Linked DNA regions of Homo sapiens: region 2 is reported to be linked to region 1. The links are microRNA targets in miRTarBase. Many come from high-throughput screens and were not tested one by one. Region 1 holds a microRNA gene; the other region holds the end of a gene's coding sequence.

Evidence for each region. Region 1 holds the annotated microRNA hsa-miR-5587-3p (GCCCCGGGCAGUGUGAUCAUC, at 3,584-3,604, shown strand). A microRNA usually pairs through its seed, bases 2 to 8, with sites in the 3' UTR of a target mRNA and lowers its output. Matches are read on the target gene's strand: a 7mer-m8 pairs with bases 2 to 8, a 7mer-A1 pairs with bases 2 to 7 and ends in A, and an 8mer does both.
Region 2: the mRNA of NKX2-3 is a reported target of hsa-miR-5587-3p. Seed matches in the 3' UTR shown: 7mer-A1 at 673-679.

Annotation. Positions count from the first base shown.
Region 1 is chr16:531,765-539,432 of GRCh38, forward strand. MIR5587 (microRNA 5587) reads left to right here and starts at 3,552; the gene lies at 3,552-3,604. CAPN15 (calpain 15) reads left to right here. Exons shown (of 14, transcript NM_005632.3): 2 at 2,182-2,234; 3 at 4,265-4,378.
Region 2 is chr10:99,535,285-99,540,618 of GRCh38, forward strand. NKX2-3 (NK2 homeobox 3) reads left to right here. Exons shown (of 2, transcript NM_145285.3): 2 at 1-1,240. The coding sequence ends at 437. Among named protein-coding and RNA genes, the nearest start is that of NKX2-3, 5.0 kb to the left of the region's middle. RefSeq lists silencers at 21-170, 1,746-1,825 and an enhancer at 4,868-5,334.

The DNA.
Region 1 (7,668 bases):
GGCCCCCGTCCCCTTCTCTGGGGTGACAGGTGCCCCCTGTGTCCCAGAGGCTTCTGCTTGGCCACCAGTGAGGTCACCGGGCTGCCCAGACCAGGGCTGCTTCTGCCACCACATGGCAAGCAGAGAAGTAGAGAAGTGCCAAAAACCACGAGTGCTTGTCTGGTCCTTTTTTCCTGTTAAAAATAGAAGTCGGGGCTGGGTGCGGTGGCTGACACCTGTAATCCCAGCCCTTTCAGAGGCCGAGGCAGGTGGGTTGCCTGAGGTCAGGAGTTCGAGACCAGCCTGACCAAAATGGCGAAACCCCATCTCTACTAAAAATAAAAAAATTAGCTGGGTGTGGTGGTGTGTGCCTGTAATCCCAGATACTCAGGAGGCTGAGACTGTAGAATTGCTTGAACCTGGGAGGCGGAGGTTGCAGTTAGCCGGGATGGCACCACTGCACTCCAGCCTAGGCGACAGAGCTATACTCCGTCTCAAAAAAAAAAAAAAGAAAAAAAAGTAGAATTCGGTTGGGCTCAGTGGCTCATGCGTGTAATCCTAGCACTTTGGAAGGCCAAGGTGGGTGAATCACATGAGGTCAGGAGGTAGAGACCAGCATGGCCAACGTGACGAAACCCCCATCTCTACTAAAAATACAAAAATTAGCTGGGCGTGGTGGTGTGTGCCTGTAATCCCAGATGTTTGGGAGGCTGAGACACTAGAATTGCTTGAACCCGGGAGGCAGAGGTTGCAGTGAGTCGAGATGGCACCACTGCACTCCAGCCTAGGTGACAGAGTGATACCCTGTCTCAAAAAAAAAAAAAAAGCCAGCCGCTGTGGCTCACGCCTGTAATCCCAGCACTTTGGGAGGTCAAGGCGGGTGGATCACCTGAGGTCAGGAGATTGAGACCATCCTGGCTAACACGGTGAAACTCCATCTCTGCTAAAAATACAAAAAAATTAGCCGGGCCTGGTGGCAGGCGCCTGTAGTCCCAGCTACTCGGGAGGCTGAGGCAGGAGAATGGCGTGAACCCAGGAGGTGGAGCTTGCAGTGAGCCGAGATCACACCACTGCACTCCAGCCTGGGCAACAGAGCGAGACTCTGTCAGAGAAAAAAAAAAAAAAAACAGGTGATGCCTGTGCCACTGGACACACCTGCACACCATCCTCATGCTGATCACAAAAGAGGGTGAGGGGCCGGGCATGGTGGCTCATGCCTGGAATCCCAGCACTGGGGGAGGCCGAGGCGGGTGGATCACCTGAGGTCTGGAGTTCGAGACCAGCCTGACCAACATGGTGAAACCTCGTCTTTACTAAAAATACAAAAATTAGCTGGGCACGGTGGCGGGCGCCTGTAATCCGAGCTACTTGGGAGGCTGAGGCAGGAGAATAGCTTGAACCTGGGAGGCGGAGGCTGCAGTGAGCTGAGATTGCACCACTGCACCCCAGCCTGGGTGACAGAGCGAGGCTCTATCTCAAAAAATAAAATAAAAAATTTAAAACCAACAAAAAAGAGGGTGATGGCTGAGTGAGGAGTCCATGGTGGGCCCTACACAGGGCCCAGGAAGGACAGGGCGGGAAGCGTGAGCATCCTGCCCACCGCAGTGGGTCCGCCATGGAGAGCATGACCTTAGAGAAGCAAAGCCGCCTGGCTCGAAGCAGTGGCCGCCCTGCTGACAGCTGTAGTGGCCGGGTGGCACTCGGGCTGGGGTCCGGGGGAGTCTAGGTGGCCACCTGGCTGTGTGCCTGTGCCTGCCCAAGCTGGGCACCTTTCCCTGGCAGTGCCTGGGAAGCTCGGCCGCCCTCCCTGGCTGGTGCTGCTCTGCAGCCCCGCTCATGGACTCTTGCCCACGGCCTGCTCCTTGTAGCAGGGTCGGGCCGTGGGAGGTCCGGACAGGATCTTGAATGGCCCTGTCTGCGGTCCTGGCTGGCCGGAGGTTGACCGCACTGGACAGGTCAAGGGCCTTAAACCAGGGTAGTGAGGAGCCTGCTGAGCCCCTGCTGCTCCCCGGGCTGCCTTTGGCGCTCGGACAGACACCCAAGGACAGAAGCTCGGACAGCTTCTAAGGCGAAGGGTCTCCCGGGGCTGATTTCCCGGGACTCTGGCTCCTGCAGAGAGGGCTGGAGGCGGGGCTCTGTGTTCCAGGGTCAGAGTCCTCCTGGTGGAAGCTGAGGTGCCTGATTAAATGCCTCCCTTTCTAGGCAGCAGCCCAGACGCGGCACAGAGAGGGCCTGGGAGCTTGCTGCAGCTTCAGGTGAGTTTGTTCCCAAGCCCTGCGGCTCGTTTATGGGTTTGCTTGCGCTGCAGAACTGTTTGTGGAGCAGCAGGGTTGGAGTGCCCACGGCTGGGGGGCCTCTCGGAGCCCTTGATTCACAGAACCCCTGGAGGCCGGCAGCCCTGCCTGCCCTGAAGAGCCTCGTTCTCCCAGCCGTTTGGGCCGTGGTCCTGTCGTGGGAGGCGACGGTGAGGGCGGCCCGGGGTCCCGACAGGGGTGTTTGTCCCTTTGGGGACCTCCCCTGTGCTGTGGCCCCGGCCCCCAGATGGAGCTCCCCATCCCCACGGCAGCGCTGGGGCTGGGGCTGGTGAGGAGCCTGTGCACGGCCCCCACCGCTATCCTCAGCCAGGAGGGTGCCTGGTCCCTGGGGAGCGGCCTGCACCTGTTTCTGGAGAATGCTGTCCTGCCAGTTGTCATTTGGGGCGGGCGGTCGGAGTCCACGTCCTCCCCCAGGGCGGGGCCCTGGCCTTGTTTCTTGTAGGGACGATGGGAAGCCCTGTCCTCAGCCCTCCCACCCGACTCATGCAGGAGCTTCCTGTCCTTGGGGTCATCTCCTCCACAGGGGCCTTAGCGTCAGTGGGGACAAAGGCAGAGTTGCCTGTCTTCAGGTTGTGGGCACCGACTGAGCTTCGTCCCGGTAGTGGCTGGCTCTTGTTTCCTGCCTGGACCAGCAGCCTCTGGTCTGGTGGGTGCAGTTTTAGGGCGCAGTGGGGTTGCCGTGGGGCAAGGCCAGGCCACCAGCTGCCTGGACACAGGGGCCCCCGCTTTCCATCTGCTGCCCCCCACACCCCCAGCTCGGGCAGGGGTGACACCGGGGCATCCTTGTTGGGGTCGCTGTGGTTCCCATGGTGGCAAGATGGCTCTGTGAAAGATTGACGGAGATGTAGGGCCCAGGAGCAGGTGCTGTGTGAGTGGGACACGCCTGTGTCACCTGCGGGGCAGGGGAGGGCTCGGGGGTACAGCCGTGTACATGATTAGTTAGCGAGACAGTGAGGAGTGTATGCGGAGTGGACACAGCTGTGGGTGCCGCCCGCGCAAGGCTGGGGGTCGCTGTGCCAGCCCTGCTCCCATGTGGGCTCCCAGCTCCCCAGGTAGGGACGCTGACCCCGGGAGGTGCCTTTGCCTGCATCCACTGGAGCCTCAGGAGCATGCGTTCCGTCCCCACGGGTCACCCCCACTGAGCCCACCACCTACCGAGAGGCACCTCGAGACCCTGTCCTGCCACGGGTGGGCTGTCAAGGCCAGCACCAGAGACCCCCAGCAGACCTCAGTGGCCGCAGATGGAGCGGGGCGGCAATGGTCACCTCCGGGACTCAGCCCTGTGCTGAGCCCCGGGCAGTGTGATCATCCTGGCCCTTCTCGTGCACGTCCCCTGGCTGGATGCTCCTTGCTGCCCTCACGGGGTGTGTGTGTGGCATACAGGACAGGGACCGGCCAGTTGGCCCTGCTCATTAACCACTTGTCCCCACAGGGCAGTGGCGGCCTCACCTCTGCAATTCTCTGAGGCTGGATCTAGGCCACCGCCCCGTTTAAAACTAGGGCATCGGCTCCCAGGGAGGGCGGGGAGCTGCACAGTTGGACTTGTGGGGGTCAGGCATGGATCCACACAGCCCGGGGCCCTCCGCACCCTGCCCCTCCAGGGAGCCCAGAGGCGGGCGTGGCTGCAGCCTGGCTCTGTGGCAGTCATGAGTCACGGCCACTCTTGAGGCGCCGCCCTGAGAGTCAGCCCTGTGGTCACGGCTCCTGCTGGTTCCCATTCGCGAGCACCTGAAACAGCCTGGCCCACAGCAGAGGCCCGGGGGGCACATGCAGCTCACGGGAGCAGCACAGATGCTTGGCCGGCGGCAGGCCCTACAGGAGCAGCAGCGGCCCAGGGCATGTCCCTGGGGTCAGGGGTCAGAGTTCGGCATGCTCTGCGGGGGCCTCACCCTGCTGTCCCTCGGCCTGGCCTGGGCACACTCCTTGGTGACAGTGCCCCTGCACGCCCCCCCCCCCCCCCGGTTATTCAGACAGGGAGCCAGGATGGGAACCACGGACTGACCTGACCTGCGTCCTCGGGGCCACTGCACTGGGTGATTCACGTGTGCCCAGGCCCTGAGGTGGGCCGGACCTGGGAGTGGCAGGTGAGCGTTCCTCCCAAGAGCCTCTGGCTGGCCGCAGCAGGCCCTGTCCCTGCTGTCCTCAGTGGCCCTGGACATGATAACCCCCCTGCCGAGGTCTGGCCGGAGCCAGCACCCACGGCCGAGATGCAGTCAGCCCTGGCTGGGCGCTGTCCCTGGGGGTGGCTGCTGGTGCTGCCCTCCCTCCTTCCCACCACTTCTTGCTCCTCTTTCCTGGGGCCCTCCCATCGGAGTCTTCCTCCTAAATGCAGTTCCCTCCCTCTAGGGGAACGCGGGCTGGGAGCCTATTTTTTTTTTTTTTGAGACGGAGTCTCGCTCTGTCGCCCCGGCTGGAGTGCAGTGGCGCGGTCTCGGCTCACTGCAACCTCCGCCTCCCGGATTCAGGCCATTCTCCTGCCTCAGCCTCCCAAGTAGCTGGGATTACAGGCGCCCGCCACCACGCCCAGCTAATTTTTTGTGTGTTTTTAGTAGAAACAGGGTTTCTCCATCTTGCGCAGGCTAGTCTTGAACTCCTGACCTCGTGATCCACCCACCTCGGCCTCCCACAGTGCTGGGATTACAGGCGTGAGCCACTGCACCTGGCCTGGGAGCCTTTTCCGTAGCTGCTCATCCTGTACTAGCATCTGTCCATCATGAGTGGACGGAACACAGGGGGACCCAGGACCCACAGCTGCACTCGGGAAGGCCAGCAGGGTGGATTTCGGGAAGAGCATCGGTGCCAGTTTCCCACAGTCACCCTTGCGATGGGACCCTCAGGTTGGCACGTGGCTGGCAGCTGTGTCCCGGGAGCTCTTGCTCCTTAGTGGGCCTCGCCAGCCAGGGCAGGGCCCCCGGCACCCCTCACGGGGCTCTTGACTCCTCTGGCAGCGGATCGGGGCGGTTCAGCGATACCATCTCTGGAGATCCCCTGGCGTGTGCTGGAAAAACCCCGGAGAGGGCTTAACAGAGCCAGCTGTCCAGCCTCTGTGACAGGGACGTTTGCTTTTCTCTGCAGGGTCCTCTCTTCTCTTCCGAGCACCCACGGGAGGGGACTGTGCTGTCCCTGCTCTCCTAGGACAGGCCTCCCTCCTGTCCAGATGGGGCCCACAGGGTCAGTTGCCTGAGACTGGCTCCAGCTCAAGAAAGGTTTTCTGAGTGAGCGCAGGGGAGCAGGAGGCTGGTGAGCAGCTCGCTTCCTGCCCTGGGTGCAGCTGGGCACCACTTCTGCCTTGGGCCTAAAGGCATCAGTGAGGAGCAGGCGGGGCCTGGTAGGAGCCTGTGTTTCTAGCGGCACGCGTGACCCCAGGTGCCACGTGGGTGAGTGCGTGGGTGGGTGAGTGGCGAAGGAGCTGAGGTTGGCCCTGGCAGGTGTGCAGTCCTCACACAGAACGGGCAGGGCTCCTGTCAGAGCCAAACCAGCTCAGGGCCCAGTGCAAGCAGCTTCTGTCCCGTGGCACCTCCGCTAGTCGCCGCTCCCACCCAAGCCCTGCCCCGCCCTGACCCGCTCAGGGTTTGGCTACAGAAGGGGAGTGTCGGAAATGCCCAACCCGTCTCCCGTGAGGGACTCCTGCGTGGCCTGGGCTGGGGAACGCAGGGGCCGTTTGGGTGGTTCCGGCGTCTGGCGTAGCCACGCGAGAGGCCCTGGGTTGATGCGTGGGCTCCCTGCTAGCGAGCCTGCTCCGTGCGTGCTGGGCTCCCGGCCTTGCTTCCGTGTGGCATTCGAGACCCCGTGGACCTCGCCTGCGTCCTGCATGTTTGAGCGCTGCCCCTTGTGGAGGCCGCCAGCACTGGTGGCTGCAGGGCCTGTAGTGTGGCACGTCCAGAGACCCGGCCTGGAGAACGGGTCCTGGATGTCTCCGTCATGTTTTACGTTCGCTTCACACGGACGCAGCGATGTCTCAGATACCTCGGATCACACAGAGCACGTCGCCAAGGCTTGTTTTGTCTGTTCCTTTCCACCTGTCTTACGTGGATACCAGGAGATCCGCCACGACTCCCGTGGCCCCGTCCACACTGCGCGGCGCTCTCCGGCGTGGCCGCCAGGTGCCCCTTCGAGGGCAGGTGTGAGTACAGGGTGGTCCCTGTGGAGAAGCGCCTGCAGGCGAGTGAGCCAGGCTGTGCCCTGCTGACCCCGAGGCCTGAATTTCATGGAACTCCCACCTCTCACAGAGTATTGTTTTTTTTTTTGATTTTTTTCCAACCATTTAAAAATGTAAAAGCCATTGTTGACTTGCGGGCTGGACCAGGCTTAGGGCTGGGCTCTGGTCCGCACCCCACACTGGCCCCGTGTGTCCTGTGACCGTTCTGCCTACGGGGCAGGCCTGAGCCACCACAGGATGGCAGGGTCTCCAGGGTGCAGGGCCCGCAATGCTTCAACCCTCCCACGACCCCAGCACCTTCAGAGAAAACGGACCCTCGTGCCGAGTGAAGTGGTTCAGGCGAACGTTATCACCACACGGGGGACTCGGCGGCTTCTGCCCCAGGCCTCAAAGGAGAGGGGATCCAGAATTCTCTGTCTCACCCCCTCAGCCCCTGCCCTTGAAGCTTCTGTCCCCAAGGCTGTGGGGAGGAACCAGGGAAGGGCTGGCGCGTCTGCTGTGCGATCCCAGGTGCTCGTGCCTCGCTGAGCTCAGCCCCTGTGGCCTCAGAGCTGCAGGCCCCTCCCGGGTGTCAGAGCACTGACTGGAAAGGCCCCCCACATCCCTGCCCTCTGCTGCTCCCCATCGTCGCGGGGGAGAAGCTGGAACTGCACCCCCACCCCCCCCAGCCCGCTCACCTAGGGCTGCCCCCAGGCCTCCCTGAGCTCCAAAGGATATGTTCTTTGGTGCTTTTTTTTTTTTTGGCTCTGTCTCCCAGGCTGGAATGCAGCTGTGGTGCTCACGCCATCCTCCCACGTCAGCCTCCTGAGTAGCTAGGTCTACAGGTGCACACCACCACACCCGGATAGTGTTTAGTTTTCTATAAAGACAGGGTCTCACTGTGTTGCCCAGGCTGGTCTCAAACTCTTGGGCTCAGGTGATCCCCCACGCACGGCAGCTTTGACACTTACTTGACCCTTTCCTCCTAAGCTCTACCCTGACGCTGGCTGTGTGTCCCAGAGACTTAATCAGAAGCTGGAAGAAGGGCTGTGACGTGTGTGACAGCAGGAACTGCTGGTCAACCCACAGCCGGCCAGCCTGCCGGGACGCCATCTTGGCCCCAATCTTGGCAGGGAGAGGGGAGTGTATCGGACTCTGGGGAGAGCAGCTGCCTGCACGGGCAGGGTCCTCCCGTCTCAGGATTAACGTTCTCAACTGTATTTGATTTCTCCTCAG
Region 2 (5,334 bases), not on the chromosome of region 1:
CGCCGCCGCCGCGCCGCGTGGCTGTCCCGGTGCTGGTGCGGGACGGCAAGCCGTGCGTCACGCCCAGCGCGCAGGCCTACGGCGCGCCCTACAGCGTGGGCGCCAGCGCCTACTCCTACAACAGCTTCCCCGCCTACGGCTATGGGAACTCGGCCGCGGCCGCCGCCGCCGCCGCCGCCGCCGCCGCAGCAGCGGCGGCCTACAGCAGCAGCTATGGCTGTGCGTACCCGGCGGGCGGCGGCGGCGGCGGCGGCGGGACCTCCGCGGCGACCACTGCCATGCAGCCCGCCTGCAGCGCGGCCGGAGGCGGCCCCTTTGTGAACGTGAGCAACCTAGGAGGCTTCGGCAGCGGCGGCAGCGCACAGCCGTTGCACCAGGGTACTGCAGCCGGGGCCGCGTGCGCTCAGGGCACCTTGCAGGGCATCCGGGCCTGGTAGGGACGGGGCGGGTCACGCGGCGGGCACCCCAGCGCAGCCTGGCGCCGCGGGACTGAAGCTCGAGAAGGGCCTGACCTAAAGGTCAGGTCCCCTCGTTAAAAAAATATGTACGTCTAGCTCCTCAGGGCTTCGGATCGCAGCTCACTCGAGGCCTGGGGAAGGGGACTCAGGGGCGAGGAGGATGACTGGGTCCGGTCGCCAGGACTGTCTCTGAGGCAGAAACGCCGGCTGGGCGCCGGGGAGGACGATGGCCCCGACCCTGGCAGCGAGAGGAGACCAGGAGGCTAGGACCCTGGCCGCGCTTGGTTCTTCCAAAGCGAGAAGGGCTTCTCTCCCTCTGCCTTTCCGCGGCCTCCGCGAAGCGTTGGCGGGGAGCCCAAGGACATAACAAATTAAAAGCATGAAGGAGAGAAAAATGGGGGTCGTGGCTTGAGAAATTCCAGGCCCTACCGATCCTCTGCCCCCTTTGCGGGCCTGGAGCGCCATAGCACAGTCGATTTCGTTTCGCAGCTGTCTCCCCTCCGCAGCAGATACCTCGGTCCAGATCTCCGGATTGTCGGGGGACGCAGGACTCTTCGAGGAAAACCAGCCGAATGAGATCAAAAGTTGGGGGTGGGGGGAGGCTGAACAAACTCAGGACCTGGTGGCCCACCGGAGGTGTTACCGGGTTTCCTTTCTGTTTCGTATTCTGTATTCAGCACATGTTATCTATCTATCTATCTATATAACTATAACCACACGCCGTGTAGACACCCGCTGCCACACACTACAGGAGTCAATAAACAAGGTGCAATATTTTCAAATCGTTGGCCGGCTACAGAATTTGTTTAGCCCCAAAGAGTGGAGAGGAATCCTTTAAATAGGGCGGGAAGGGGAGGAAAAGGTGCGAGGGGGAAAGCCATCCTCCCTGGGCGATCGCAGGCCTGGTCTCCCATGAGCCAGGCCCCAGGCTGCAAGTCTGATCTCTTCGGGGCTTTGTTCATTAATTTCTGTTTACTCTTGAGGGCTGGACAGGTCGAAGGCTCAGGGCCATTTGAAGTCCCTGGCTTTGCAGTTCCCCCTAAGTTTTACCCAGATGCTTGGACTAGCTGTATAGACCTGCGTTCGGTCAAGTCTTGCACTCTGCCCCACCTCGAGGGTCGCCAGGGAAAAGGAAGCCTCGCTCGCAGTCCCAGCTGTTGGCCGCGCGAAGGCGGCTCCTTCCCTGGCTGCAGCCAGGGCTACCAACGCGCCCGGGGGCGCTGCGCTGCGCCCCACTGCGGCCGAGCTCTCCCCCTTGGCCGCCCTCCCTTCTCCCCCGGCGGCCGCGGCTTTATGCGGCTCCTTGTCACTTGCGGAGAATGCCTGTGCGAGGCCTGTGCTGCCACACGGCCGATTGTGAGCGTGCCAAGGCGGGTGAATGGGGAGGCCTCAGAGCGCCGCGCCATTGTGGGGCCGGGCCTCGCTGAAAGGCGGCTCCGGGCCGGGAAGGTGCGGAAAGAATGGCTTTTTATTGGAGTCCCGAACAAAAGGTGTGGTAGGAAGGCGAGGTCCCCTGCGCGAACAAAAACCCCAGCGCGTCGGATTGACGTCCCCCCCGAGCTCCCCATTGCTTCTCAGAGCGGGGGCTTTGTGCAGCAGTCTGCTCAACAGAGGGACGGAGAAATGTGCGGGGGTTTTGTTCCCCACTTTTTGTGCTCTGGGGGAGGGGGCGGCAGGGGGACGGGGGCTGGGCGGGCAGCAGGGAGGGGCGCGCTGATTAGGCCGGGCCGGCCGGGGCGCTGAGACGTTCAGCGGGAGTCGGCGGCCTGAATGCTGGGTCATTATTGCTACAAGTTTAGCAATTTCTCCCTTACAGGAGGGGGTGGGGCTGCTAGGCTGTGGCGGGGCCGCCCGGCTGGGGAGCTGTAGAGACCCGAGGAGGAGGAAGAAAAAGAAGGAGGGAAGGGAGGGAGGGAGGCAGGCAGGCAAGGGAGCCCTCCGAAGCCCTCTGACCGCCCAGGATGCGACTTGGACACATCCGAAAGGGCCTAGCGGGAGGCTAGAGAAGCGGCACTTGGGGAGCGAAGACCTTCCCTCCCCTTGCCTCTCAGGCGGCAGAAAGACCCCAGAGCCGAGCGTGAGCCAGTGCACCAGACTGCTGGTCCCGCAGCAACTCGCGGCCGGGTCCCTCCTCTTTCACGTCGCCCCCGAACTGGGACACAGCCTCCCACCACCGTGATGCCCGAATCCCCTTCCCTACCGCGCTCCCTCTTCTGGAGCCGTTACCTTTCCATGGATTGCTTAGGCCAAGGGCTGGAGAGGAAATTCTTGGCTTGTTACTTGCTTCTCACAGCCTGCGGCTGCAGACTTTCATTCATTCATTCATCCATTCAACTAGGTATACTGAGCACCTACTATGTATTCACTTGTACTGTTGAGTTGCTGGGAACGGTGAAAAAAAAAGTGTCCCTAGATTGGTGGATTTTATTTTCAGGTGTGAAGGTGTGGGTGGAGGGAGGGTGAGACAATAAACAAATGCAAAAACAGAAGATGAATTCTAAAAAGGAAATAGAACCAAACGCTGGGAACGGAGGTCTTTTCAAGTAGGCGGTCGGGAAAGCCTGTTGAGATTACATTTAAGTCAATGCCTGAATGACAAAACGAAGTCATTCCAACAGTGCTTTGCTATCTCAGCCTCCATGCCTCAGCACATGCCCTCCCGTCCATCTGGAATGCCCTTCCACCCCCATTTTTCTGGTGAACTTTTGCCTCTCCTTCAAGGCCAAGCTTCTTTCCTGAACCACCTAAGTAGAGGTAATCACTCTCACATTTGTGCCACCAGAGTCTTAGGTACTTTCCAATATCATAACATGGTGTCATGCAAAGATTTATTTGTCTCTCTCTCTCCACAGGAGGTTGTGGAGGGCCAGGTTGGCATCTTTTCCCTCTGGGACAGGTACCACAGTAGGAGCTCATGGGGCCAGGAGGGTTGTGGGATGCCCTCTGGGCTCTGTCAGCACCTCTTCCCTGGTGCTTCATGGCTGCCTGAATTGCCTGGGTGCTGTTGAGCTGTGGCCTTGGCTGCTAGCTTCGAGGGAAATGTGGAACTGGAATCTTGCCTTCCCTGGGCCTAGTTCAGGACACTTGGCAACCCATCTCCAACCCAGCCGAAGGTCCCACCTCTTCTGTACCCCCTAATGCTGCCTAAGGACATCCCTGCCCACAATGTTGCACCTCGTCCTACAGCTCAATACCTAGAATAGGAGGGAGGCTAAGACCTTGGTGAAGACCTTGACCCCAGGGCACAAAATTTGGGGCCTGGGGAACACTAGGATGTGTAAGAAACCCAGGACCCGCGTCTGGGACCCAATTCGACTTCCCCTACATTCATTAGGTGCAGGGAATGGAAAGTCAGCAAGATCTGGGCAAGCACCCTGTGAGAGCTCACTCCCCCAGCACCTTCGCTCTTGGAACTGAAGTCTCTAGGAATAGCTGCCCTTGCTCCACTGGGGGTTTCCTAAGTAAGCAACTACTTTGCCTCCAATGCAGTCCCTTATCCTGCTGGGCCTTGGCCTCTCAGTGCTCCCAGCACCACACCCCCACTTTCCTTGCTGGGCTTCCTCTTGCCCTGCGTTGGTCTTCCTTCACTCTGCATTCCCTCTTGTTCTGGAAAAGTGGCTTGTGATCCTCACAGAGGAAACAGAACTGGTTCTGTGGATTGGCTTCCGCAAGTTTGCGTGTCTTGAGATACTTGAAGCCAGCCTAGACCAGCCCGCTCCCTACCCTGCTCCGGAGCCTGCAGTCTCCAGGTATAAATAGCTCCCACCACTTCACTGGAGGATTTCCCTACTGCTCCTTGCTGGGGTTCCTCCATCAGAGGTTGAAAACCCTTGACCAACGCAGGTACCTCTTCCTTGGGCTCCCTCTCCAGGGTAAAAGTTCCCCCTGACAGGACAAACTGCTGCTTCATTAAATTGTCCTGTGAGTCAGGAGGAATCAAAATCCAGGCAGGCCTTCTAATGACCCATGAGACTTGGGACAGGCCAAGTAAGTTGTTCCTCTGGGCTGTGGTTTTTGAGATCTATGGTAGAGAGAAGGGTGAACCATATGATTTCAGAGGTCACTTCAGGTTCAACCCTCCTGGGTTCCCTTGGATGAGTGTGTAACCCCTCCCCACCCAATAAGCTCAGGGTGGGTTGGCACCACTGAGGGAAGAAGTGGGATAGGTTTTAGATGGCTAGTACTTTTTCCTGCAAAGCCTGATCTTGAGGAGTTAAGAGGATGAACTCTGAAGTCAGACTGAGTCTATTCTATTCTCAGCAGCACCACAACCAGCAGTGGAAACTTTGAATAAGTTAGAAGTGCCCTGAACCTCAGTTTCTTCCTCTATAAAATGGGTATGCTTGTAGCACCTCTTTTTTTTTTTTTTGCCTACAGTAAAACATGCAAATAGTTAAGGATGCAACTCAGTGAATGTTTATATAGTAAACATTCGTGTATCAATCATTTTGGCTTTAAAAGTTAAATAAGATGATCAATCTCAATACCTAGGATATTGCGTCGACGTTCTAGGAAGATGTCTAGGACTCTATTCCGCCCTCGAGGCACTCCCAGGTCCCCGGGGTGAGGGGGGTGGAAACAGGGGGGTGGGAACAGGGGCGCGGGGGGGGTCGTGGGAAACAGGGCGGCACAAGGACCGAAAACCCCAGCTCCGCGGGCGCGTGTCACCACAGAGATCCGGCAGAGCCATTGCGGGTAAACCTGGGACAGGTGGCGCCCGGCGGGGTCTGCAGGGCTTTGATTTCGGCTGCATCTGGGACATTCGACAGAAGGGGAAGGTGGAAGGACGTTTCCTGGGGGAGGTTCGAGTCCTCTCTAGCCCACCACTGCAGGGAGGAAAGGGTAAGGAGTGGAAACCCGGCCCCTCTCCGCGGGG